6 separate regions of the Homo sapiens genome follow, and all the other regions are linked to region 1. The links come from fine-mapping of genetic effects on gene expression. A gene starts in region 1. Each other region holds a variant in brackets. All regions are shown on one strand. Distances are from middle to middle.

Evidence for each region. PIP is the estimated chance that this variant, and not a neighbour inherited with it, causes the effect.
Region 2: its variant is the best candidate, but not a certain one, in a credible set for the expression of REEP1 in lung (GTEx, PIP 0.58).
Region 3: its variant is the best candidate, but not a certain one, in a credible set for the expression of REEP1 in cerebellum (GTEx, PIP 0.73).
Region 4: its variant is the best candidate, but not a certain one, in a credible set for the expression of REEP1 in cerebellar hemisphere (GTEx, PIP 0.67).
Region 5: its variant is the best candidate, but not a certain one, in a credible set for the expression of REEP1 in unexposed skin (GTEx, PIP 0.64).
Region 6: its variant is the best candidate, but not a certain one, in a credible set for the expression of REEP1 in whole blood (INTERVAL, PIP 0.71).

What each region holds. Positions count from the first base shown.
Region 1 is chr2:86,335,394-86,339,482 of GRCh38, forward strand. REEP1 (receptor accessory protein 1) reads right to left here and starts at 2,233. Exons shown (of 9, transcript NM_001371279.1): 1 at 2,086-2,233. The coding sequence starts at 2,117.
Region 2 is chr2:86,208,853-86,212,941 of GRCh38, forward strand. It overlaps MRPL35 (mitochondrial ribosomal protein L35), which reads left to right. Exons shown (of 4, transcript NM_016622.4): 4 at 1,628-4,089. The coding sequence ends at 1,816. Among named protein-coding and RNA genes, the nearest start is that of MRPL35, 11 kb to the left of the region's middle. The variant A/G (reference allele first, on the strand shown) is at 2,171.
Region 3 is chr2:86,226,814-86,230,902 of GRCh38, forward strand. It overlaps REEP1 (receptor accessory protein 1), which reads right to left. Exons shown (of 9, transcript NM_001371279.1): 7 at 550-585. Among named protein-coding and RNA genes, the nearest start is that of MRPL35, 29 kb to the left of the region's middle. RefSeq lists an enhancer at 3,899-4,089. The variant C/T (reference allele first, on the strand shown) is at 1,556.
Region 4 is chr2:86,233,717-86,237,805 of GRCh38, forward strand. The region is part of intron 5 of REEP1 (receptor accessory protein 1); the gene reads right to left. Among named protein-coding and RNA genes, the nearest start is that of MRPL35, 36 kb to the left of the region's middle. RefSeq lists a silencer at 1,750-2,044. The variant G/A (reference allele first, on the strand shown) is at 1,908.
Region 5 is chr2:86,310,447-86,314,535 of GRCh38, forward strand. The region is part of intron 1 of REEP1 (receptor accessory protein 1); the gene reads right to left. Among named protein-coding and RNA genes, the nearest start is that of REEP1, 25 kb to the right of the region's middle. The variant T/C (reference allele first, on the strand shown) is at 1,591.
Region 6 is chr2:86,143,322-86,147,410 of GRCh38, forward strand. It overlaps IMMT (inner membrane mitochondrial protein), which reads right to left. Exons shown (of 15, transcript NM_006839.3): 14 at 2,747-2,876; 15 at 615-1,560. The coding sequence ends at 947. Among named protein-coding and RNA genes, the nearest start is that of SNORD94, 9.5 kb to the left of the region's middle. RefSeq lists a silencer at 691-891. The variant T/TG (reference allele first, on the strand shown) is at 1,944.

The DNA.
Region 1 (4,089 bases):
CAAATCCCATCAACTCTCCTTGGGCCACATAATGCTGTTCATTTAAATTCTCTGAAGTCTCGGTTCTAGGGAGTGTGGTTGTTTTAGAAAGCAACAGCACATCCCTGAGACACCTCCCAAATATATGCCTCTCCTCTCCACCCCCATCAGTTGCTCATTGTAAAAAAGGGGGAGGAGCCGGGCGTGGTAGCTCACGCCTGTAATCCCAGAACTTTGGGAGGCCGAAGCGGGCGGATCACTAGGTCAGGAGTTCAAGACCAGGCTGGCCAACATGGTGAAACCCCGTCTCTACTAAAAATACAAAAATTAGCTGGGCGTGGTGGCAGGCGCTTGTAATCCCAGCTACTCGGGAGGCTGAGGCAGGAGAATCGCTTGAACCCAGGAGGCGGAGGCTTCAGTGAGCCGAGACTGTGCCACTGCACTCTCCAGCCTGGGCGACAGAGCGAGACTCGGTCTCAAAAAAAAAAAAAAAAAAAGGGCAGGGGTGAGGGAGGTGCTAATAAAACTAATGATAGTCACATGACCCAGTGCTAATAAAACTAATGATAGTCACATGACCCAGGATCAGATGCCCTCACTCCCAGCCCAGCAGGACCTACAGAGAGCCCACCAGCCAGGCCAGCTCAACTCTCCAGCCCCACCCTGAGGGCTTCCCAGAAGCCACTGGCAATATCGATCCCAGAGAGGAAACACCACCCTGAAGGCAAGACAGTGTTGGTCAGGCATGAGGCTGGGCAAGGCGTGTCAGCCACTTTCCTGTATTATTCATGTCGGCTCTGCCAGCAGAAATCTTCTAAATATTTAACATGCCACCTCAAGGTGCAGCGCAAACACCCCGCAGTCAGGAACAGCTGTGGAGAGGCCTTCACGGAATGACTTGGGGGCTGAGAGGCACAGACACTGGCTTTGGGAGGAAAGCCCTGAATGGTGGCGGGAGACAATGCTGAGATCCACTTCGGAAGGGAAAATCAGTAAAGAAGGGAAGGGAGATGGGTGGTGTTTCAAAACGTGGGGAGTGATGGTGCACAATCACTGGGGTCCAGAGCCCCGTGTTCTCAGACAAAGAAAAAGCCCGAGGTGCCTGCCACCCTCCTCCCCGCCTTAGACTCCCCACACCCATTTCAGCCCCTGCTAGCTACAGCAGGTGGCAAATCTGTTCTGACTCAGGCCAGGATGGTTAGGGAAGAACAGGGACTTGGAACAGCCACGTCTATCTCCAAAGGAGAATAAATCCACCGGGGAAGCTCTTCAAACGCCTACAGGTCCTGGGGCTTGAAGGAGAAAATCGGCCCCCACGCCCACCCCCAATGACTTCACACAGACCTCACCCTAGATGACTCTGCGCTCTCCTGCAAGGCCTGGGAGGTGTCATCGCCACCATGCGGGTGGCTGTCACTTGAAAATTTCCCGTGCATTCCTGGAGGTACCTGCCCCTGTCTCTCAATCCCCTGCAAAAGGAGTCGGAGCCGGGGGCTCCAGGCGTTTACTCCAAGATTCACATGCGTCTTCCCATGTCCCAGCTGCCTTTGCCGCTGTCGATGCAGACACCTAAAAAGGAGGATTTTTCCAACCCCACTGGGAGCCCCGCCTCTGCCTCTCCACCCGTTCCGCGCTGACCCTCCAGGCAGCGCCCCTGGTTCGTCTGCGCTGTCCTTTCCACCTGACAAAAGCTGGGGCGGCGGGGCGCGGCGCCGGGCGACCTCACATTTCTGCCAAAGGAGAGAGACGCGTGTCCGCGGTGCGCCCATTCGGGGCCTCTGCAAATCGACCGAGCTGAGGAACAAAGCGGCCAGCGCGCGGCGAGACGCAGCCCCCACGGAACCCCCGAGCGCCCCAGCCCTCGCCGTCCCGGCCCAGCCCCCCGCAAGCGGCCGCCGGCGCCGGCTGCCTCCTGGGCAGCAGCCGCGTCCTGCGCCGCCCGTCCGCCCGCAGGCGTCCTCGGCGGCTACTGTACCTGCTAAATTTAGCTGCGCCGGGTATTAATAGCCCGAGCCACTGGGACCGGGCGCTGTAGGGGCGCGCGCAGCCCGGGGCCGGGGGCGGGGAGGGAGGGGACGGAGGGGCGCGGGGGAGAAGGCCACTTACACCACCAGCCTGGAGATGATCCATGACACCATGGCGGGCAGGCGGGCGGGCGAGGCCCGGGCGGCGCGGCTCGGCTAGGCTGCGGGCGGCGCGGGCTGCTGCGGCGTTCCCGGAACGTCAGTCAGCTCACGGCAGCCGCCGCCAGACTGAGCGCGCCCGCCGCCCTGCCCGGCGTTCGCGCGTTGGCGCAGCCGCGGCACGTTCTGGCGGCGGCGGCGGCGGCCCCAGCCCCCCGGGGCTCGGCGGGCCCGCAGCGATTGGGCGGTGAGCTGGTCAGGGCACCCGCGGGCCCGCCCCGTCCCGCTCGCCCTGGCCCCCGGCTGAAGGCGGGCGCGTCCTGCGCGCTCCCCGGGGCACCGGCCCCGCCAAAGGAACCCTGCAGCGGCCCCGTTTGCAGGGCAGGGACCCGGGTGCTGCCCCACCCTCAGCGTTCCAGCGGAGAAACTGAAGTCCGAACCTGAACCTCGGGAATCTGTCTGCACCTGTCTAGGTGGGATGCTGTCATCCCTCATTCAGCTAGTGCGTTAGCCTCATAAAGGGTTTACCTGGATCCAGACCTAACCTCTTCAGTCTGTCCGTTGCTCAGCACTTTCTGCATAAGAAACAAACCTGGGCGCTTGCCTCCCTACTTAAAATTCTACAGAGTCCCTATATGATCGTGGTACCTGCCTAGAACCGTGTTGCCAAGACCATTCCCCCAAATAGTCCTCTAGCTCTTTTCCCTCCAGGCATCTTGGACTCAAATATTTGCTGTTTCTTCTTCCCTGTCAGTACACGCCACGCCTCATCGTCCTGCCTTGGTTTGATTCAGCTCCTTCTTCTAGGCTGGGCTGAAGGGCTACTTCTTCCTAGGGAAGGCCTTTCCTTGGGGGCTGCTCCGGGCCCTAGGAGGAGACTAGAAGCTGCGACTGCTTAGCACCAGTGCCCCGCTGAGCCACGTTGAACTCTTAGGCAAAAGGGAACTTGTGCACCCTATATAAACGTTTTTATGTATTTTTTAAAATACCGTATTAAATATTATGGTGGTTTTTTTTGTTGTTGTTGTTTTTTTATGAGACAGAGTCTCGCTCTGGGGTGCAGTGGCGCGATCTCGGCTCACTGCAAGCTCCGCCTCCCGGGTTCAAGCGATTCTTCTGCCTCAGCCTCATGAGTAGCTGAGATTACAGGAGTGCGCCACCACGCCCAGCTAATTTTTGTATTTTTAGTAGAGACGGGGTTTCACCATGTTGTCCAGGCTGGTCTCAAACTCCTGACCTCGTGATCCGCCCGCCTTGGCCTCCCAAAGTGCTGGGATTACAGGAGTGAGCCACCTATTATGTATTTTAGTTGCTGAATTTTATGGCACCTCTTAAATGTTGCACCCTCACTGAGCGCCTCACTCTGCTCACCCTAGTCCCGGCCGCAGATAGTACATTATTCTGTTACACTGGAAACGCTTTGTCCTCTACTCCTAGGCTCTGCTGCTGCTTTTCCCACCCTCCAATAGCTTAGGTTCTGCGTGGTGCTCCCAGCGCCCTGTCCTTTGCTGATGATGGTGTCATGTATAATTCAGTGTCAGATGTGAGAAGCGCAGGAGACAGCTTAGTACTCTCAGATGTAGCAGAATCTGTGCGTGCGTGTGCCTGATATAGTCAGAAGAAAGACTTCACGGACAACAAAGGGACTGCAGATGAGACATGCTCTCATATCTCAGGTCTCCAAAGAACCCATAAAATAGCTGTAATGTAGCAGTTTTTTCATGCTGCCTTGACCCAGTTTTGAGGCTCAGGCTGGAGGCTGGTCAGTTCCCCTTCTCCAGCAGTCTATTAACTGCATACCCCCAACCACTTCCGTTAGCAGGCTCTCACACGCGGGACACTATACACCTGTCCAGGGCTAGGCACCAAACAACTAGTTACAGCCCCTGTACTTCAGAACCCGCTGAAATTATCCAAATTAGCCTATCCTATATCTGCTTGCCTTATTTCACTCTTTCCTTCCCTCAGAAACCATGATAAAGATGTT
Region 2 (4,089 bases), 130 kb before region 1:
ATCTGGGTAGATGAATTCAAACTAATGTGTAAAACAAAGTATTTTCCATGACACGGTTTCATCCAGCAGTCCTTGGTATTTATTGTTCATTCCCTCCTTCCATTTTTGAATCTAGAGATTGTCTAAAAAATTTCAAGCATTTTCATAGTGGTTCCATTCTGTGAATAATCTTTAAAGGATACTGGTGGTAATGAGCAGGGCAATAAATTAGGTGTTTGTACGTCAGAGATCCATAGTAACCCAGTTTGGCCTGCAAACTATGAAATTATTACACAAATGTGGAGATTTGGCTTTAAATGTTTGCATTTAAAATTGTAAGCAGTGAGTAGCAAAAATCTAACCTCTAGCATTCTAAAACCAGAACTCTTAAATAACCTTTCCTTATTTCATCACTGTCCTTATAGAAGTTGATGGTCACAGTGATGATACTAAGACATGTCAGAAATGCAAGGCACATTCTCGGCAAAGAGCCATGGTTTTGTTCAGTTGGTATTGTGCCATAAAGAGCCCTTGGCTTGAAAGGACCCAAGGGCTCACCGTGTGGTTTTAGCCAGATGTTAATTAAGCTGGATGGCACCTAAGATCCCTTCTAGTTTAAACAGGCTATGATTATAGTTTTTATAATCAATCAAATTTTCCTTTCCTGTCTTTAAAAATAAATTCTTCAAAATGAATAATACCTGTATGGGTGTATATGAAAGTTCTGGGTTAAATATGTGGGTTAACCATTCCTTCACCACTCCTAATAATAGTCTTACCATATTCATAATTCCTTAGAAAAGTACTTCCTATAAAAATTGGTCCCTTGTGTGTGAAAATAATAAATGAAGCAATATATTTGAGAACTGTGCTTCTCAGCTCTTGTAATACTCAGCCTCCTTAATAAATATTAATGTTGTTACCTCGCCTGCACTCCATCCTCCTCTACATTAGGAAAGACAGTGGTTAAGAACTCTTATTAGCCTGGGCAAGATGGTGAGACCTTATCTCTACAAAAATTTAAAAAGTAGCTGGGTATGGTGGTGCACACTTGTGGTCCCAGCTATACGAGAGGCTGAGGCAGGAGGATCACTTGAGCCCAGGAGGTAGAGGCTGCAGTGACCGTGATCATGCCACTGCACTCCAGCCTGGGTGACAGAGTGAGACCCTGTCTCAAAATGAAACAAAAAAAGAACTCTTATTAGCCCTCAGACCTCTGTCTGCTACTTCTCTAATCAATGGTTTCTTTTTTTAAAGATGTAAAATAGAATAATAGTATGTTGTTAAAGATTGCTGAAGAGATAGTAAGATCATACCTGTTAAGTTAGTGATTATAATTCTGTCATTATCTTGTACTTTCCCAGCCACACACATTTAGTTTTATTTTCTGTGAGTTTAATTTAAATAATTTTTTTCTAAAATATGATTTATTACTAATTCTTTTTTAAACTACACATGCTTTCTCCATCCCCCTCCCCGCCACCCTCCCTTCCCCCGGCCATTGAGAATCACATCTTTCCAAGAAATAGTCCAGCCCCTATGGAAGTCTGGTTTTTGTTCTTATTGGGTCTATAAACCTTGAGTTGTGAAGATACCTGTTGTTTCATACATAGTATGATGTTTTACATTTCTTTGTAATATCTGACAGGCTGGCTATAAGAAAAAATTATGGAAAAAGACACCTGCAAGGAAGAAGCGATTGAGGGAATTTGTATTCTGCAATAAAACCCAGAGTAAACTCTTAGATAAAATGACGACGTCCTTCTGGAAGAGGCGAAACTGGTACGTTGATGATCCTTATCAGAAGTATCATGATCGAACAAACCTGAAAGTATAGATCAGAAGTTTCACTTGTTTCTCAGTTATTGGATATGTATCTTTGTGTACATATCTTTGCAAAAATGGATAAGTACAAAACTTGATGTAAATTGTACCAATGAATACGTAAACATACAGTGACAACATTAAACTTAGAAAAGTTTTAAAACTTAATGGATCAGACTTTGCCAGATTTGGTTAGGGAAACAGAAATTTAGAATGGTGCATTATTTTTAACAAATGGTATTGGCTTAACTAGTTGTTTCAGTTATGCTCTTTTAGTTGCAAGGAATCTCAAGTGGGACAAACATAAAAAGACTCAAAAGCTACAAGTTAGCTCAAGCAATGTGACATTATTTCAAGGATATGTGCC[A/G]GGGAATTCAGGAACCACCTCACCAACCCCATCTCCCACTCAGAAATCACCTCCCAGCCTCAGGAAGAGTAGAAATTGGGTGGTGCTCCTCAGCAGGGGAAGGTGGATGTTTAGGCTTGGGCTCTGCATGCATGTGACTTGCTTCTTTTTGCATTGTTAACTCCATTCTCTCTATTCACCAACTTCTCTACACAGCTTTTGCATACTTACAGTTTCTGTTCCTTTGTAATAACTTTAACTTGCACCTTTGAGGTTCTTTTCTACATGATGACCTTCAGCTCCTGCTGCTAGTCTCCAATTGCCAAGGGAATTTAACTGGGCCAGACTACCTTTTTATACTAGGTCTGGTTGGGTCATTGTCTAGAGTAGGGATTGGCTGTCCTTAAGTCAGGAGCCCGCTTTGTATTAGCAGGTTTGCATGCAGCAAAAAAACAGTTATGTGAGCAGTTTCACTTGGAGGTTCACATGGGGTGGCAGCACACTTAACATCTAACACACCAGGTTCATTGTGTTCATAACACTTGTCATTTACTGTAACAACATTTTTTCATAGGAGAGTAAATAGCCCTTCAGCATGCTCATTCATGAAACAGAAGAGGCTGTACAAGTGAAGACAAGGGCTTTTTATGCAAGTTTTGAAAGATAGGTATTTATTTTTTCTAGAGACAGGAGTTTTGCTCTGTTGCCCAGGCTGGAGTGCAGTGGTGCAATCATAGCTCATTGAAGCCTCGCACTCCTGGGCTCAAGTGGTCCTCCTGCCTCAGCTTACTGAGTAAGGATATGTATTTCTTAAAAGTTAGTTTATCCACTTCAGATTTCATGTTTTCATTTGTAAGGATAAACTTTTCCCACAAATTTTCAACAATCATTGTAGAAACTAAGGGGGAGAAAGTAATCTCAGTTGTTTTAGAAACGAAAAAGTTAAGCATTGTTTACTTGAAGTGGGCAGGGAAGCAGCACTGAGTAAAGTTCAATTGAGTGGTTACAGTCTAGGGCAGTGGTTCCCAACTCTCCGATCAGAATCATCTGGGAAGCATTTTCAAACAGCAAAGTACTTTGAAAACCATTATTAAATAGAATTATGCATGAATTACTGTTTCAGATCCTTTAATGTGGTAGTTGGTAATAATAAGATGAAATTCCTCTGTTGTTAGTAAAATTATGAAATTGAAGTTCTGCAGCATGTCAGGCCAGGATTATTAGGGAGATTCCTCGAAACTAGTGTGTGTTTATTAAAAGGAGAAAGGATAACAATAGAATGTTCTAAAACCAGAAGTCCAAGTGCGTGTCTACTTATGGGACCAATAAATAAAGAACAGACATTTGATTTGAGGTGAGGTAAAAGCCTGAAACATGGAATGGCATTCTGTTTTGATGGATTTTCATTTCTTCGCACTTCTGAGACGGCAAAGCCAACCACTTAGAAGCCTTCCACATCTTTGTCACCTGCCTGGCTCCTGCTCTCTGATGTACCTCTGGGTAGTGAGATGGAAATGGTGCCTGCAGAAGTTGGGGAGAAGGATACTTTTGCACAGCCTCCATGATGTCTTTATTGCAAATATGGATGACAAGGGTCTCTGTTACAGGGGCCTCAGAGCACCTTCGTTTCTCCTCTAGACCAGGGACAGGTGTAGAGATAAGGACTGGCAACCAGAGCCTCAGCATCCAAAGATGGACTGAAGTGGGATGGCTGACAGGCACATAACTTACGGGAAAGGGAATTTCATACATACGATTTTTGTTTTGTGGGTAGGAGGGCTTATCATCAACACTGATTTTATAATCTGACAATAAATGTCTTTCATTAAAGAGTTTACCTAAATGATGTTCGATTATATGTATAATTTATAAAATATTTATGTATAGTTTGTTTATTCAGGTATATGTATAATTTATTGAACACCTACTATGTCCCAGCA
Region 3 (4,089 bases), 110 kb before region 1:
CCTCCCTTCAAGAGGTGGAGATTAATTCTCCTCCCCTTGAATGTGGGCTGTGCTTAATGACTTGCTTCCAACAAATAGAATAAGGCAGAAGTGATGAGTGTGACTTCAAAACCTAGGACAGAAAAGGTACCCTGGCTTCCTGCCTGCCCTCTATCTCTTGAATGGCTCACTCTAGGCCAGGCCACCTGCCACGTTGTAAGGACTCTTAAGCAGCCTTGGAGAGGCCCAGCCAACAGCCATAAGAGTGCCATCTTGAAAGTGGACCCTCCAGTTTCGTCAAGCCCTCCGATAACTCAGCCCAGGCTGACATCTTGACTGCAGCCTCTTGAGAGACCCTGAGCTAGAACCACCCAGTTAAGCTGCTCCCAGATTTCTAGCCCACAGGAACTGTAAGCTACTGTGTTTGCTGTTATAAAGGGTTAACCTCCTGACCCCTCCCTATGACCATGCAGCTGAAAGGGAGCCCCAGGGTCAGGTGCCCACTCCTGGTTAGAAGCTCTTTCCGAGTGAGAGTCCAGCACGCTGCGGAGAGGCTGGCTGCTTACTCACCTTTCCAGGTCCTGCAGGTGGAGCAGCAGGTACACACTGTGGGAATGGGGTAGGGGCACCATCAGTGACATCCCCCACTGGACAGGAACCAGCCCCGGGCAAACAGGGAGGCCCTGGAGAGGTGTGGGGATCCCAGTGTGTACAATATAGGGATCCCAGGAAGGTGGGTCTCTGTAGAGACACCAAAGTGGGGAAAGAGTCATCTCAGATTCAGTTTCTGCTCAGGTGCAGAAGATACCCTCACCTGGCACACAAAGTCAGTCCTTGCACCCTGCAGCCCTAGGGAAGGCCGGAGACAGAGTCAAAGTTCCCTCTGGAAAATAACTCCAAGCACCCCTGCCCAAAGCCTCCTCCTCTCTTTGCTTTCCAGTTCAGAATGTCCTCCAGGAAACCTCCCCAGACTTACCTCTGAACCCCAAAGTGCTTCGCATCTGGGCATTTGCAAAGGCCTAACTGGCTGCTGCCTTGTACACGCCATTGGTCTTGGTGCACATCTGGGCCTTGGCAATAGAGTAGGTGCTCACTAAATACATGCTCACTGAGTGACTCCAAGTCCATGGAAGGCCAGGATCATTCTTTCAACATTTCTTGTACACTTCCTGGTGTCCAGTGCTAGGCATTCAGCATATGGTATCTGACTACACACCTTCCAGCTCATTCTGCAGGGAGGGCCATGTCAGTCCCTGCCTGCCCTGACCCTTTAAGCAAAGAGGAAAACTCCAGGCAAGAGAGAGGGTCAGGCCAAGTACACTGCCCAGCCCCATCCTGGGTGCTGAAAGCAACAGGAAAGAACTCTCCTTCCCCTTCTCCAACGCCTAGACCCTGTGTCCTCACTGCACATACAGAGGTCTCTGTGTGCCAGGCATGTGGTGAGTATGTTGGGTAGGCATTTACAGAGGGAAGCACAGAACCCTTGTCTGCCTGCCAGGAGCTTGCAGCGCTGAGTGACCGTGCAGGGACAGTCTTTGTGCCCCTTCCTCCCTTCCTCGTTTGTGTGCATCTTCCT[C/T]CCTTTTCTCAAGATGCAGGAGGTCACATGGATGTCCCTTCTTGGCTCACAGCAAATGGTCCACACTGGTTCATGGGATCCCCTTCACTTTTTTTTTTTTTTTTAATGAGACAGAGTTTCACTCTTGTTGCCCAGGCTGGAGTGCAATGGCATGATCTCAGCTCACCGCAACCTCTGCCTCCCGGGTTCAAGCAATTCTCCAGCCTCAGCCTCCCGAGTAGCTGGGATTACAGGCACCCGCCTTCACGCCCAGCTAATTTTGTATTTTTAGTAGAGACAGGGTTTCTCTGTGTTGGTCAGGCTGGTCTCAAACTCTCTACCTCAGGTGATCCACCCGCCTTGGCCTCCCAAAGTGCTGGGATTACAGGCGTGAGTCACCGCGCCTGGCAACCCTTTTTATGTGCCTTTACATGACTTTTATTCCCACACCCCACTCACATTCTCCTTCCTCCTCAAGGAGTGTCACTTTTAATATTTTAATGTGCAACTTTTTGTTTGAACATGTTCTTCATATAAACTCCGTATTGTTACTTTGCATGATAGGCATATATTTTTTACATAAATTGTTAGATAAAATCTCATTCTGTTTTGCACTTTTCTTCACCTGGCATCATGCTTTCAAGTTCCACTGTGTGCACCCTTAATCTGTTGCTTCCAGCAGCTGCAGAGAATTCCACGAGGTGCAGCTCCCACCTCTCTCCAGGTTGTCTTCAACCCCTGCCACCTGTCCAGGGTTTGCAAATTCTCTGGTTTGCTCTCCTCACAACCCTAAGACATAGGCTGAATAGGGACTATTCGGTCTTTTTTACAAAGAAGAAAGCCTGAGGGAATCAGGTCTGTCCTCTGTGCCAAGGCCAAATCTATGGTAGCGACTGCCTGGGTTGTTCTGAGAGAAGTTCTGAGGCTGAATTGAGGCTCAGGAGGAAGGAGCATGCCTTGCTGTGCTGCATTTGCTGTGTCTGCACAGGCCCGGCATCACCCAGCCAGGATGAAGTCTAGCCTCTTCCCCTTTTCTGGGGCCCTTTCTGCTACCTGATCTGGCCTGGCATCTGAGGCCCACACTGGGGGCTGAGCTGGGGAGAGTACACCAGCCCGGTATAAATTGGCTTCCTCTGCCAGACTTCCTCCTAGGCATGTTGACCTTACTTCAGGGTATGATAGCCCAAGAGCCTCTGACCCAGGAAATTCTGCCCCATATCCACGCCCCAGGCCATCTTTCACCTGTCTTCCTTTTTTTTTTTTTTTTTTTTTTTTTTTAAAGATGGAGTTTCACTCTTGTTGCCCAGACTGGAGTGCAATGGTGCAATCTCATCTCACTGCAACCTCCGCCTCCCCGATTCAAGCGATTCTCCTGCCTCAGCTACTCCATGAGTAGCTGGGATTACAGGCATGCACCACCACGCCTGGCTAATTTTGTGTTTTTAGTAGAGACGGGGTTTCTCCATGTTGGTCAGGCTGGTCTTGAACTCCCGACCTCTGGTGATCCACCCTCCTCAGCCTCCCAAAGTGCTGGGATTACAGGCGTGAACCACTACACCCAGCTCCTGTCTTCCTTTTTGAGATGGCTTTTATTTTAGGCTCCAGAACAGCTGGAAAGAGCACTACACTGTCCTTGGCCTCCCTGCTGGGTTGCACCTTTCCTCTTTGCCCCCTGTGGTCATAGGTGCGGAGGCCAAGGGGGCCAGCAGTGAGGAGGGCTGGGGCATAATGCAGCACAGCTGGTCCTCTCAGCCTGGGACAGCCAGAACACTCCCCACTGCCTCCCTGGGGCATGGCAGGGGACGTCATCACCTCTGCTCATGGAGAGTGGCAGAGCCAGTGCCAAAGCAAATCATCCCAAATGCTTTTCTACCTGATGCTGGGCTGGGAAGATACTCCAGGCCCAGAAGACACTGCCATCTCCCTGCAGACCCTGCCAGCTTCTTGCATTCCCAGTTCTGAGGCTGCCCTGAATAATTCACCAGGGGAGGTCTAGGCAGGAGGCCTGGATTCTGGGCCTGGGGGCCTCAGCCCAGTGCACAACCTCTCTGAGCCTGCTTCCTCCACTGGGCTCACCTCTAAAATGGCAACACAGACTCTTAGAGGCAAAGGGACGCCAGGGCCACCTAAGCCCGCTTCCTAGCCAAAGCAGGAATCCCTCCCTCGAACCTGACCATCCAGCTTTGGCTTGTGTCCTTCCAATGTCAGGGACCTCACTACCTCCCAAGATGGCCCATTTTGCTCCTGGACACTTGCAGCATGACAATGCGCCTTCTCAGGAGAGACAAATTACAAAAAGAACAATGATAACAGCTACTATGCACTGGCGCCAGGCATGGCCATAAGCACTTTCACATGGCTGGTTTCATTTGAAGCCTCACAACAACTCTACAAAGGGGTGTCATTCCTTGTGTAGATAAGAAATCTAGGGTGCAGAGATGGTAAATAGCTCGCCCGGGTCATGCGGCGAGCAAGTGGCTACCCCCTTCGAACTTCACCCCACTGGTTCTTGCTCTCTGCCCTCTGGGTTTTACTGAATTGAGGCCCCTTTTCCA
Region 4 (4,089 bases), 100 kb before region 1:
ATTTGGAGCAAGAAGTGACAGGCAAGTAACTACCAGGCAAATGAATGAACTCAGACATCTTCAGAAAGAAGAAAGCCTGGAGGGTGTGCAGGGTTCCCTCGGGTGCATGGCACTGCAGTGGCATGGGAGAGGTTTTCTATGCCACTTGGATAATGAAGGAAAGAGTGGTCCCAGAGATCTGGGGGACAGGGGGACAATACTGCACAACAGACATAACAGAACCAACAAATCAGCACAAAATCAATTCAAGCCGCTGACAAGAGGGCTGCTGGTGGGATTGATGAAATAAGCAAGGGCCAAAACAGTTGAGTAAGAGGTTTTCAGGGGTGAGAGAAGGGTTTGGAAGATTTTTTTCATTTTACTTAATATAAAAAATAATGAAAATGAACCAACAAAGCACAGCAATTCGCTGAAGTGAAAAATCCAGATAGGATCAAGGAGCAGACGCAAAATGAGTTCATTAGAGGGGAGGGGGAAAAAAAGGGGCTTGCAGTCAGGTTTAGAAGAAACGCCAGAAGAGGGCAGGCGTGGTGGCTCATGCCTGTAATCCCAGTACTTTGGGAGGCTGAGGCAGGAGGATTGCTTGAGTCCAGGAGTTCGAGACCAGCCTGGGCAACAAGCGAGACCCTGTATCTACAAAAAATTTTAAAAACTAGCTGGGCATGGTGGTATATGTCTGTAGTTCCGGCTACTCGGGACACTGAGGTGGGAGGACCGCCTGAGCCCAAGAGGTAGAGCCTGCAGTGAGCCGGGATCATACCACTGCACTCTAGTCTGGGCAACAGAGTGAGGCCCTGTCTCAAAAAAATAAAAAGAAAGAAAGAAGTGCCAGACTAAAAGCAAGATGCACTAAAATATGAACTAGATCTGTTCCCAACCTACCAAAGATATAAAAACCATGTCACCAGGAAACCAACAACAATAACACAAAGAAAACTATTTAAAAAGAATTGTAAGTCCAGGCCAAGAAGTATTTGGAGGATATTATATGAAAAAAGACAGAAATCACCCTGGTTGCCTCAGACACTGCTCTAGAGTGATGGTTGGGCAAGGGTCCAAGGTCTCACGTCCTTGGCAGGAACAGCTGGGTGGTCTCTGCCAGCAAAATGGAGGCTGGACCAGCCAGACACCCATTATATAACCCCTTCAAATATAGCAGCCAATGATCCATGATTATTTTACGCAGAAACATTCTAGGCAGCATCTAGAATTTAGAAGAAATTTGATGACTAAGGAACAAAACTTGATTCTGAAATGAGTGAGAAAATATTCTGCTAATTATAAGTGAGTAACTCAATGTTAGGTTAGTGTTCAAGCAAACTGTTCACTGACTCACTCTTTCATTCATCCTCTCATTTCTTCGTTTACTTTACTTGTTCAACAATTACCAAGTACTTTTTATGGGCAAGAACATGGTGCTAGGTGCTAACATGAAACACCAAAAATACAGTTTGATTTCTGAGAAAGCGGAGAACGACAAATGTACAGATACAACACAGAAGTATCCTAGCAGAAGCTACAGAAAGTGAAGATTGAGAACAGCAGTTCTTGAGTCAGGCCTTGATTCAAATTCCAGCCCTGTCATTCAACAGCTGAGTGATCTTAACCTCTCTCCACCTCAAGACCTTCATTTGCAGAAGAGGATCCAAATGGCCGGCTGCTCGTGCGGATTCAATGAGATTACATCCTTAAGATACCCATCACATAGCCCATTGCATATTTAGTCTTCAAAAATGTCAACTATGATGATAATGATGTTGATGCTGTGGCTACTGCCTAAGATACAAAGGTTGCTATTGAAAGCTATTGAAAGCTGCCTAAGACACAAAGGTTGCTATTGAAAGCAGAGGTGGAAAAGGTCACTTCCTAAGCTTCATGACCCCAAGCCCAAATAAACGGCCAGGGAC[G/A]AATTCCCTCAACACAGTTTGCCAGTTCTTGCTCATTGTCGCTCAGCAACATATGTGAGAGAAAGCAACAGCAGGCATCGTACACGTTCATTTTAGCAAAGTGCTCCATTCAACTCCCAGAAGCCAGCCAGTCTAGCTCCAATATCACACTGGCAGTGGCAGAGGTTAGGAAAGAGAGGGAGATAATAATAGCTCAGTATCAACCTAGGCCTGTGTCAGAGGAAATTATAGTGGCATAGATACAAGACTCCTGAAAACAAATTAGCCCTTGCCCATCAAAACACTCTGAGATGGTTAAAATCAGTATGCCTGACCGGGCGCGGTGGTTCACGCCTGTAATCCCAGCACTTTGGGAGGCCGAGGCAGGTGGATCACTTGAGGTCAGGAGTTTGAGACCAGGCTGACCAACATGGTGAAACCCCATCTCTACTAAAAATATAAAATTAGCCAGGCGTGGTGGTGCACGCCTGTAATCTCAGCTACTTGGGAGGCTGAGGCAGGAGAATCTTTTGAACCCGGGAGGTGGAGGTTGCAGTGAGCCAAGATCATGCCATTGCACTCCAGCCTGGGCAACAAGAGCAAAAACTTCATCTCAAAAAAAAAAAAAATCAACATGCCTCTCTCTTTTGTAAACCTTTCAGCCCTTCTCAGTCTCTACACAAAATCTCATTCCTATTCACTTTCCACAAACCCCATTCCACACTGTCTGTTCAGCTCCGCTCTGCAGAATCTTTGTTATTCTAGACCATTGTCTTCTGGGAAGAACCACGAGTTGTTCATTGGTATTCTGCAAAATTGGTTTCCCTACTTTGGGGAAATAAATTTGGATTCTCTAAATTTGGAAAGCATTAATACCATATTCCCCATAATTCCATGAGCCACATTATCATACTAAAAGCTCTGAGAAGGCCCATCTGGTGGTGCATGCCTGCAATCCCAGCACTTTGGAGGATGAGGGGGGAGGATTTCTGGAGCCCAGGAGTTCAAGACCAGCCCGGGCAACATAGGTAGATCCCGTTTCTATTTTTAAAATTTAAAAAGACATCGCTAAGTCACCAGAATAATAATGACAACACCCACCTACTCCTAGACTTCTTGAAAATGATTTTCATCAATTTTTTTTTTTTTTTCGAGATGGAGTCTCACTCTGTCGCCCAGGCTGGAGTGCAGTGGTGCAATCTCGGCTCACTGCAACTCCGCCTCCCGCGTTCACGCATTCTCTTGCCTCAACCTCCAGAGTAGCTGGGACAACAGGTGCCCGCCACCACGCCTGGCTAATTTTTTGTATTTTTAGTAGAGACGGGGTTTCACCGTGTTAGCCAGGATGGTCTCGATCTCCTGACCTCGTAATCCGCCCGCCTTGGCCTCCCAAAGTGCTGGGATTACAGGCGTGAGCCACCGCGCCCAGCAGATTTTCATCAATTTTAAGACGTATTTTTCATCTCTGAAATTGGGGTGGGTCTTACAATTGCTGCCGCCCTGACATCATTGTCAACGCCTACACATAGATATACTTGGTTGTTATTCTCCCTGGCATAACTGGACAACTGAAGCCCCTGAGTGTTTAATTAACAAACCATTTAAGAACTGTTTGAGAAAGGAATATGAATCTCAGTTGTCTAACACATATCTCACTGACACTTTCTGGTATGATCAAGAAAGTGGCAGCATCAAAACTGGCATGAATGAAAATCCCAGAAACAACAGCTCGACATCACCCAACACACTAGAAGGAACAGAGAATGATATGGCATGGTCATAAGTGGATACTGACACGCCGAGCTGAAAAGTGATTCGGGAGACTCTGAAAGTGAAAAAGTGAGGTTAGAGAGATCTTAACCACTTATTGTGCTAATGCGTTCCTTTTTATTTTCTTTCTCTCTTTTTGTTTTTTCTGTTGTTGTTGTTGTTTGTTTGAGATGGAGTTTCACTCTTGTCAGCCAGGCTGGAGTGCAATGGCACAATCTTGGCTCACTGCAACCTCTGCCTCCCAGGTTCAAAAGATTCTTCTGTCTCAGACTCCTGAGTAGCTGGGATCACAGGTGGCCACCACCACGCCCGGCTAATTTTTGTATTTTTAGTAGAGACGGGGTTTCACCTTATTGGTCAGGCTGGTCTCGAACTCCTGACCTCAGGTGATCCACCCACCTTGGTCTCCCAAAGTGCTGGAACAGGTGTGAGC
Region 5 (4,089 bases), 25 kb before region 1:
AGGCGGTACCACCTAGGTTTGTGTAAGTACACTCTATGATGTTCACACAATGAAAAAATCATCTAGTGACACAGTTCTCAGAACATACCCCTATTATTAAGCAATGCATAACTGTATATAGACATATCATCACCTTCTAGGGGCCAGAGCATGCTTTCCACCCTAAAGATCAAGATTCTCCTTCAAGTCAACCTTCAACCTTTCTAATCTTTCCTAGATGAGGAAAATTATCCTCCATCATTACTTCTCTCTCCTCCCCTTTCTCTCTCTCTCTCTCTCTCTGTGTATGTGTGTGTGTGTATGTGTAGTAATAACAATGTACGGTGTATAGAGGATAAAAGGAAGCAAAAGACAGGCTGTGTGCCTTCAAAGGACTATGATATAAACTTAAGAGGCAAGACATAAACACTGGTGAAGTTAAAAGAAACAAATCTATGAGTTAAGAAATACAAAAACACACATGATACCTCTGGACAGCTATGTAGGTCATTGTCCAATAATTGGTGCTAGCAGTGTGTGCTTTGAGGTGGCAGAACAAAGAATCTACTTCAGTCTAGAAGGGTCTAGGGAAGAAAAAGTAGATAGATACAGCTAAGGGAGGGAGGAGAGATGGCACTCTGGAGAGGGTAGTGATGATTCAAGCCAATTCACGGAAATCAGGAATAGTCATAGGAACTGAAGTTCCCCTAGGACTAAATTATGGGGTGACTGAACACCAATGCAAACTTCTAGATGGAATTATTAAAATAATTGTGAGCACTAGAAAGGAAAGAGAAAAATACCGGGAGCCTGCACCAGTCCTGCCAGGTTCTGCCCGCATGGTGCCAGGCTGCCCTTATTTCCTCCTGCAACAGGGGGGCCAGCAGGGGCCGATGGGTTTTTAAAGGTAGTGGACACTGCATTAGTTTCCTAGGGCTGCAGTAACAAAGTACCATAAATTTCCTAGCTTAAAACAACAGAAATTGTTTCTCTCATCATTCTGCAGTCTAGAAGTCTAAAATCAAAGTATCATGAGGGCCACGTTCCCTCTGGAGGATCTAGGGGAGGATTTTCCTTGCCTTTTCCTAGGTTCTCACAGCTGCTGTCAATCCCTGGAGTTCCTCGGCCTGGACGGGCATCACTCCAATCTGGCTCAATTGTCACACAGTATTCTGCATGTCTCAATCTGTGTCCAGATTTTCTTTTTATAAGGATACCAATCACTGGATTGGGACTAACCCTAATCCAGTATGAACTCATCCCAACTTGATTACATTTGCAAAGACTCTATTTCCAAATAAGGTCACATTCTAAGGTTCCAGGTGGACATGAATTTTGGAGAGACATTATTCAACCCAATGTAGACACTGAGTATCTGTCACCCCTATGTGCTGGCCTTAGAAGCTACCTGCCATGTAAGATCCCGTTCTACCATCCTGCACTGGCAGTGACTTGATGCACAGCTATCACAGAGGTCACCAATGGAGGAGTCCCTGTGCTGGGACAAGACGGAACTAGATGACTTCTAAAATTCCTTCTGATTTGCACATGTGTGGTTCAAGTCCTGCCGATTGTTCCCATTCTACTGATTTGCCAATGCAGCCCTCTCTT[T/C]TCATTCTCACCGCCAAGACTCGGGTTCAGCCCTTGTTGCTTCCAACTTGACACAGACACACTGCTTTCACATCACTCCTCCTGACAAACCCTCACCAGCTCACCCCTGCCTGAAAGCAAAGTTCTGTATTTTGACCTCAACATCTACCTTTACCACCTGAACTCCTAAGATGACACTAATTTTCAGGCCAGTCTGGTCCTTCAAGTGGCACAATCTCACCATCACACATAACTTCATACTGGCTGCAGAAGGGAATCCAAACTGTGTTTGGAAGACCATTTACTCCCCTTCCATGCACCCTCCCTGGACCAGCCAGTCCAGCCCACAGCACTTCTGCGTTTCAACGATTCTTCCTGCTTGCAGAAGCACTGGACCCTAATCTCATTGCCCTGCACTATAAATGATCCATTCATGGAGATGGGGCTGCAGCAACACTTAGGCAAAGACAACACAAGAGCTGTAAAATCAGACAGATTTGAATTTGCTTCACGGCTCTAATATGTAATGTTTAAGAACTGAACAACAGGAGTTTGAGGCTGCAGTGAGTGCTGATCATGCCACTGCACTCCAGCCTGGATGACAAAGTGAGACCCTGTCTCCAAAAAAAGAAAAAAGAGCTGGGCAAATTCCTTACCCTTTCTAAACCTCTGATTGCTTATCTGTAAAATGGAAATAATAGTACCTACCCCATGGGGCTACAGTCAGGGTTAAGAGAAATAATGTATGCAGACTTTCAATGCAACATCTGACATAAAGCATACTTGTAAATTATGTGTCAACAAACATACTTATTTTTATTATGGTAAATGGATCTAAGTTTTGCCTTTAGGTCTGGGAATCAAGGCACAGATCCTGTGTTCCTCTGGCACCTAGCAGCACACTGCCAATGACTACTCAGAGTGACAGACATCAGTTCAGACGGGAACCCCAGAGAGCATTTAGCTACCATCCTTCTTCTTCTGCTTTTTTTTTCTTTTTTAGTGTGAACAGCCAATTTTGCTTAAAATTCTGGGACACAGAGCAAGTTTATATCACAGAAAAGCAAATGGATTAAAAGAATATCAGAAATTATTTTATTTTCTTTTATTCTGAGACAGAGTCTTGCTCCGTCACCCAGGCTGGAGTGCAGTGGCACAATCACAGCTCACTGCAGCCTCAACCACCTGGGCTCAAGTGATCCTCCCGCCTCAGGCTCCCTACACCCTGAGTAGCTGGGACTACAGGCATGTACCACCATGCCTGGCTGGTTTTTCTTTTCTTTTCTTTTTTTTTTTTTTGGTGTGTAGAGACAAGGTCTTGCTATGTTACTAAGGCTAGAGATCCTTTTAAAATGTCTTTCTGCTAAGTTGTTGGGCCATCACCTCTCCTTTGTTTCCTTCTCCTCTCCCAGCTTCTCTGGATTCCATCTGTTTCTTATACTGAGAAGTTTGCTACCTAGCTAGCCCTCAACCTCTTTGTTTTATGAATGGAAAGGCTGGGACCCAGACAGGGCAAGTGACTCACCCAGTGTCACAGAGCTGTTAAATGGCAGAGCCATGATTGAATCGGGCCATGACTACTTTCCTACATGACATATTGAAACCAGTTTGAGCCTCGGTTTCCTCTCTGGCAAAACAGAGATACTAATGCCCACCTCCCCAGTTTGCTTTGAAAATACAGAATCAAGGGCCAGGCCAGTGATGGAAAAGACCAGGTGTGAGATGAGACATGGTCACCACCACAGCCTGCAGTAACTGGGCCAGGTGGGGCTAGGCAGATCAGGGAGCACAGGCCCTGGGAGCAGCCACCCCTCAGCTTGGCTGATGCTGCCCTGATGGAATCATCCTGCAGTGCCAGATCTTCTGACTCTTCAAGAGAAGCCCAAAATTTGAATTTTGGTGCCACATCTCTCTATTTAAGTAGATTCAAATTTAAAACACCACAAGCTAAACAAGCAACATGCAGGCTGATTTCAGCCAGGAGCCACCACGTTTGTGACTTTGTATCCAACCACAGATGTGAAGCCATTTGCAAACTGCCAAGTAGCAGACTAATGGGAAGAAAAGGCTGACCCACAGTGACTGGAATGATCTATCTACCCAGGAAGCTTCTGCAAATTCTCCCGGGAGCAGTGCTCCCACCTGAGTGACTTCACCAAGCCCCACAGTGCCTTACCTCCTGCCAGGAAGGCCACAACCACAGCTGATCTCATCCTGCTGCCAGCCCAGTGGCAGCAGCTTGGATGCCTGGCTGTCAGCTGAGAAATTTGCCCATGCCCTATAGGGAAACCACCTCCCCACCTGGAGTCTCATTAAACTGGATGAGTTGCCTCCAGGAACATGCTGAGCCTCAGTCTCACCCTGGAAGGCACTGCAGGGCTGGGCTGGCTCAGACTGACCTCAGAGTTTGGATCCCAGCCTCTCTTGAGCTAAGGCAGGCCCAGGTGGGGTGAGCAGGCTGGCTGGGGTGAGCCAGCTAGGACAGGAGGCCTAGCGACAGGGCTAGACTGTTACAAAAGA
Region 6 (4,089 bases), 190 kb before region 1:
GACCCATAGAGGGCTGCTGAATTAACTTGTGGGTAGAGACCAACATTTTAACAAGTCACTAGAACGATATATCCCCAATTATAAATACATGTGGCACTTTGGCTTGTATATTACTCTTTTGAGTCTGAGCAGCAGGAATCAATTCACCAAAACCTTCAAAGGCAAAAAGCAGGCTGTGGACTTCTGGTGACGCAATTCACAGCCTGGAAACTGTGAGCTAGAAGTTCCTACTTCTGCTGTTGTTGTTTCTCAAGGATATTTTCTGTACATACAACAAACTAGAATTTTTTTTTTTTGAGACGGAGTTTTGCTCTTGTTGCCCAGGCTGGAGTGCGATGGTGCGATCCTGACTCACTGCAACCTCCACCTCCCAGGTTCAAGCGATTCTCCTGCCTCAGCCTCCCGAGTAGCTGGGATTACAGGCATTCGCCACCACGCCCAGCTTAATTTTGTATTTTTAGTAGAGATGGGTTTCTCCATGTTGGTCAGGCTGGTCTCGAACTCCCAACCTCAGGTGATCCACCCGCCTCAGCCTCCCAAAGTGCTGGGATTACAGGCGTGAGCTACTGCACCTGGCCAGAACTGTACTTTTTGAAAAGGGATAAGATACTCAGTTTTCATCTTGTTGCTTTATTCAGTTTGCTCCGAGGGCAAAATCAACAGTAGTAGAGATCACAAACATTATTTTGATTGGCCTCACAAGCCTCATCAGTAAAACCTGAAAAAACAGAAAATGTTACACAAGTTGCAAAGAAAGCACTCCTGGCGTTCACTGACATGATAGCAAATGGAAAGAATATAAATGCAACAGGTGTTAACATTTAGAACAGTACTTGTAAACCTGCTCATTTCTAGACAAGTCCGGGACTCTCGCTGCGAACCCTTCATCTATCACTGCTGATTTCCTTTGACATGAAATATGACTTTATGAAAATCTTCCTAAACCTCACTCTGGCTGCACCTGAGTGGTTCCTATTCCTACGGCGCTGGCATATGCTGTCAGGATTTCCACTATCTGTTTCGTTTCTAGGGTCATTCGGGCTTCCTTCAGCCAGTCCTGTGCCACTCGTCTGGATTCCCCCTTCAGCTGATTGACAAACTTTGCTGCTAGCTCCAGATCACCATGCTCAATGCAATAGGAAGCATATGACAGTAATTTAAATGTGTTTATATCCTCAGGGCAGAGCTCTGGGGGCGGCTTCAGTTGCTGAGGTGGGAATAGGAGCAGGGACTGTAGGTAGGAGAGGAAGTACTGGTACAAGCTATTTCTGGTTTCATCAATCATTGCTACCCTTCGGGCCAGTTTTTGAACAGCATAGAAACGGGCTCTAAGGGTCTCTTCACTGTACACCCCACGGGTCAGGGACTCTGGAGGGATAGCTGCGGTTAAAGCTTGGGTGAATTCATTATCAGAACAGTTGGCTTTGATGGCCTCAACTGCACTACCCAGCGGGATAGTAGGTGTTTCTGCAGATGAGGTCTTCATGCTGTACTTTAATGCCTCCACTGAAAGCCAGAGTTGGTGGGCTTTTCTGGCTTCCTCTTCAGCAACTGCATGGCCTACAAAGAAAAAAAGGCAAAGCCAAACATTTTTCTCTCCATCTGACAACATACATCCACAGAACTGATGCACATTCAACAAGCTACATCTACACATGTGCAAGATGAGGCCAGAGAGACTTTCTTACAACCCCACCCCCACCACTTATTTCTGGTGTATTTTCCTAGCTGGCCTCTTCATATCAAAGTCAGAAGTCATTCACATCTGCATGATATCTAATCCACATATTTTTACCTTTACTAGTTGAGAAAGAAACATATTATTTAAATTAGGCTAAGACTTAACGCTAAGGCCATGAGAAATTTTCTGCAAAGAAATGGGAGACTTCAGGGCCAGGCACAATGGCTCATGCCTGTAATCCCAGCAATTTGGGAGGCCGAGG[T/TG]GGGTGGATCACTTGTGGTCAGGAGTTCAGGACTAGCCTGGCCAACATGGTGAAACCCTGTGTCTACTAAAAATACAAAACCTAGCCAGGCGTGGTGGCACGCACCTGTATTCCCAGCTACTCAGGAGTCTGAGGCAGGAGAATCGCTTGAACCCAGGAGGCGGAGGCTGCAGTGAGTCGATATCACACCACTGCACTCTACCCTGGGCGACAGAGCAAGACTCTGTCTCAAAAAAAAAAAAAAAAAAAAAAAAGAAATGGGAGACTTCAAACGAACTTAACAGACTACTGGATCTTGAAATTCCATGAGTATTGAATTTATTTTTATTGTTATGTGACAAAAAAAGATTCCATAACATCCTAAAAAAACCCATTTTATTAATACCCTCATTGTCATGACATTTCTCTTTCAATGTGGCACATGGAGGCCTCAGCATAAATACTGTCCATTTGGTAGTTGGACTCGGCAAATCACCACCTCCAGATAACCCACCAAGTCTGTGGAAGGCAAGCATGGGACCACACTGACCCCTAGCCCTTACCACCCAGGCACATGCGACATAGCCAAAGGATACTGGGTAAATAGCCTTGTAAATGGTGATTTTGTGTTTGTCATACAAGGTATAAATTTCTAGTTATATAGATTTTGCCATTACTTTTAATGGCAAAAACTGCAATTAAGTAGAGTGATTAGTATTTTTATGTCCTGATGTCAGTACATGTACCCCATTTTCCCTATAAAATTATTTTGATAAATTATGCTGAGGAAAATTATCTGTAAGATAAACATAGCTTATGCTTACTCTGAACAGCCTGTTCGATTCCTCTGAGTCTGGCATAGGCAGTATTTATATCCAGAGTAAAGTTGTCAACTTGCTCTTGACTGAGACGACGAAATTGTAATTCTTGTTCAGAGAGTTTCTCAGACAGGTTCTGAAATAAAACAGAAATAGTTCCAGAAAAAAGTGATACTCAATGCATGTCATGTAACTGTGTAATCTTCCAGCAACTACTTGCTGAAGCAAAGAGGGCCTTAGAGTTGTCACGAAATTCCTACATTTTGTGTAAAGTTTCAAAAATGTCCTGACTCATATTTGATGTATATAATATATTTTTTTTTTTTTTGAGATGGAATCTTGCTTTATTGCCAGGTTGGAGTGCAGTGGCACAATCTTGGCTCACTGCAACCTCCGCCTCCCAGATTCAAGTGATTCTCCTGCCTCAGCCTCCCAAGTAGCTGGGATTACAGGCATGCATCACCATGCCAATTATTGTATTTTTAGTAGAGATGGGTTTCACCATGTTGGCCAGGATGGTCTCGATCTCTTAACCTCGTGATCCGCCCACCTCGGCCTCCCAAAGTGCTGGGATTACAGGCGTGAGCCACCGTGCCCGGCCGATGTATATAATTCTTTACAGGTTTACTGATGGAACCTAATATTAGAGGAGGCATACCAAGAGAAGAGAGAAGGCTGTTAAAGTCAGAAACAAACTGCCAACTGTATTTTATTTTTGAGACAGAATCTTGCTCTGTCATCCAGGCTGGAGTGCAGTGGCACAACCTCAGCTCACTGCAACCTCCACCTCCCAGATTCAAACGATTCTCATGCCTCAGCCTCCGGAGTGGCTGGGATTACATGCATGCACCACCATGCCCAGGTAATTTTTGTATTTTTAATAGAGACAGGGTTTCGCCATGTTGGGCAGGCTGGTCTTGAACTCTTGTCCTCAAGCGATCCACCCGCCTCAGCCTCCCAAATTGCTGGGATTATAGGTGTTAGCCACTGTGCTCAGCCACAAATTGTCAGCTTTAGAAAGTAAATTATCTGTACTGCAAACCTAAACATAATAATTAGATTAAATTATATTCTAATATCTTGTATTTAAGAGCTTATACATTAATTTTTCTCAGAAAAATATCCAAATAGAATTTAAAATACCTTTTCATACTGACATACATCGCGATTCTCTGGAAGATTTTACTTAGAAAACCTCAATATCTTCTTGCAAGACAAAGTAACAAGTTAATATTACTGTAAATGATTTCTTGAATAGAAACTATGATTACAGGCATCCTGATAATTTACTGGGATTTCAAAACTTCTCTGGGAAATTACCTCAGTTATAAAAATCTAAGCAGTACCAT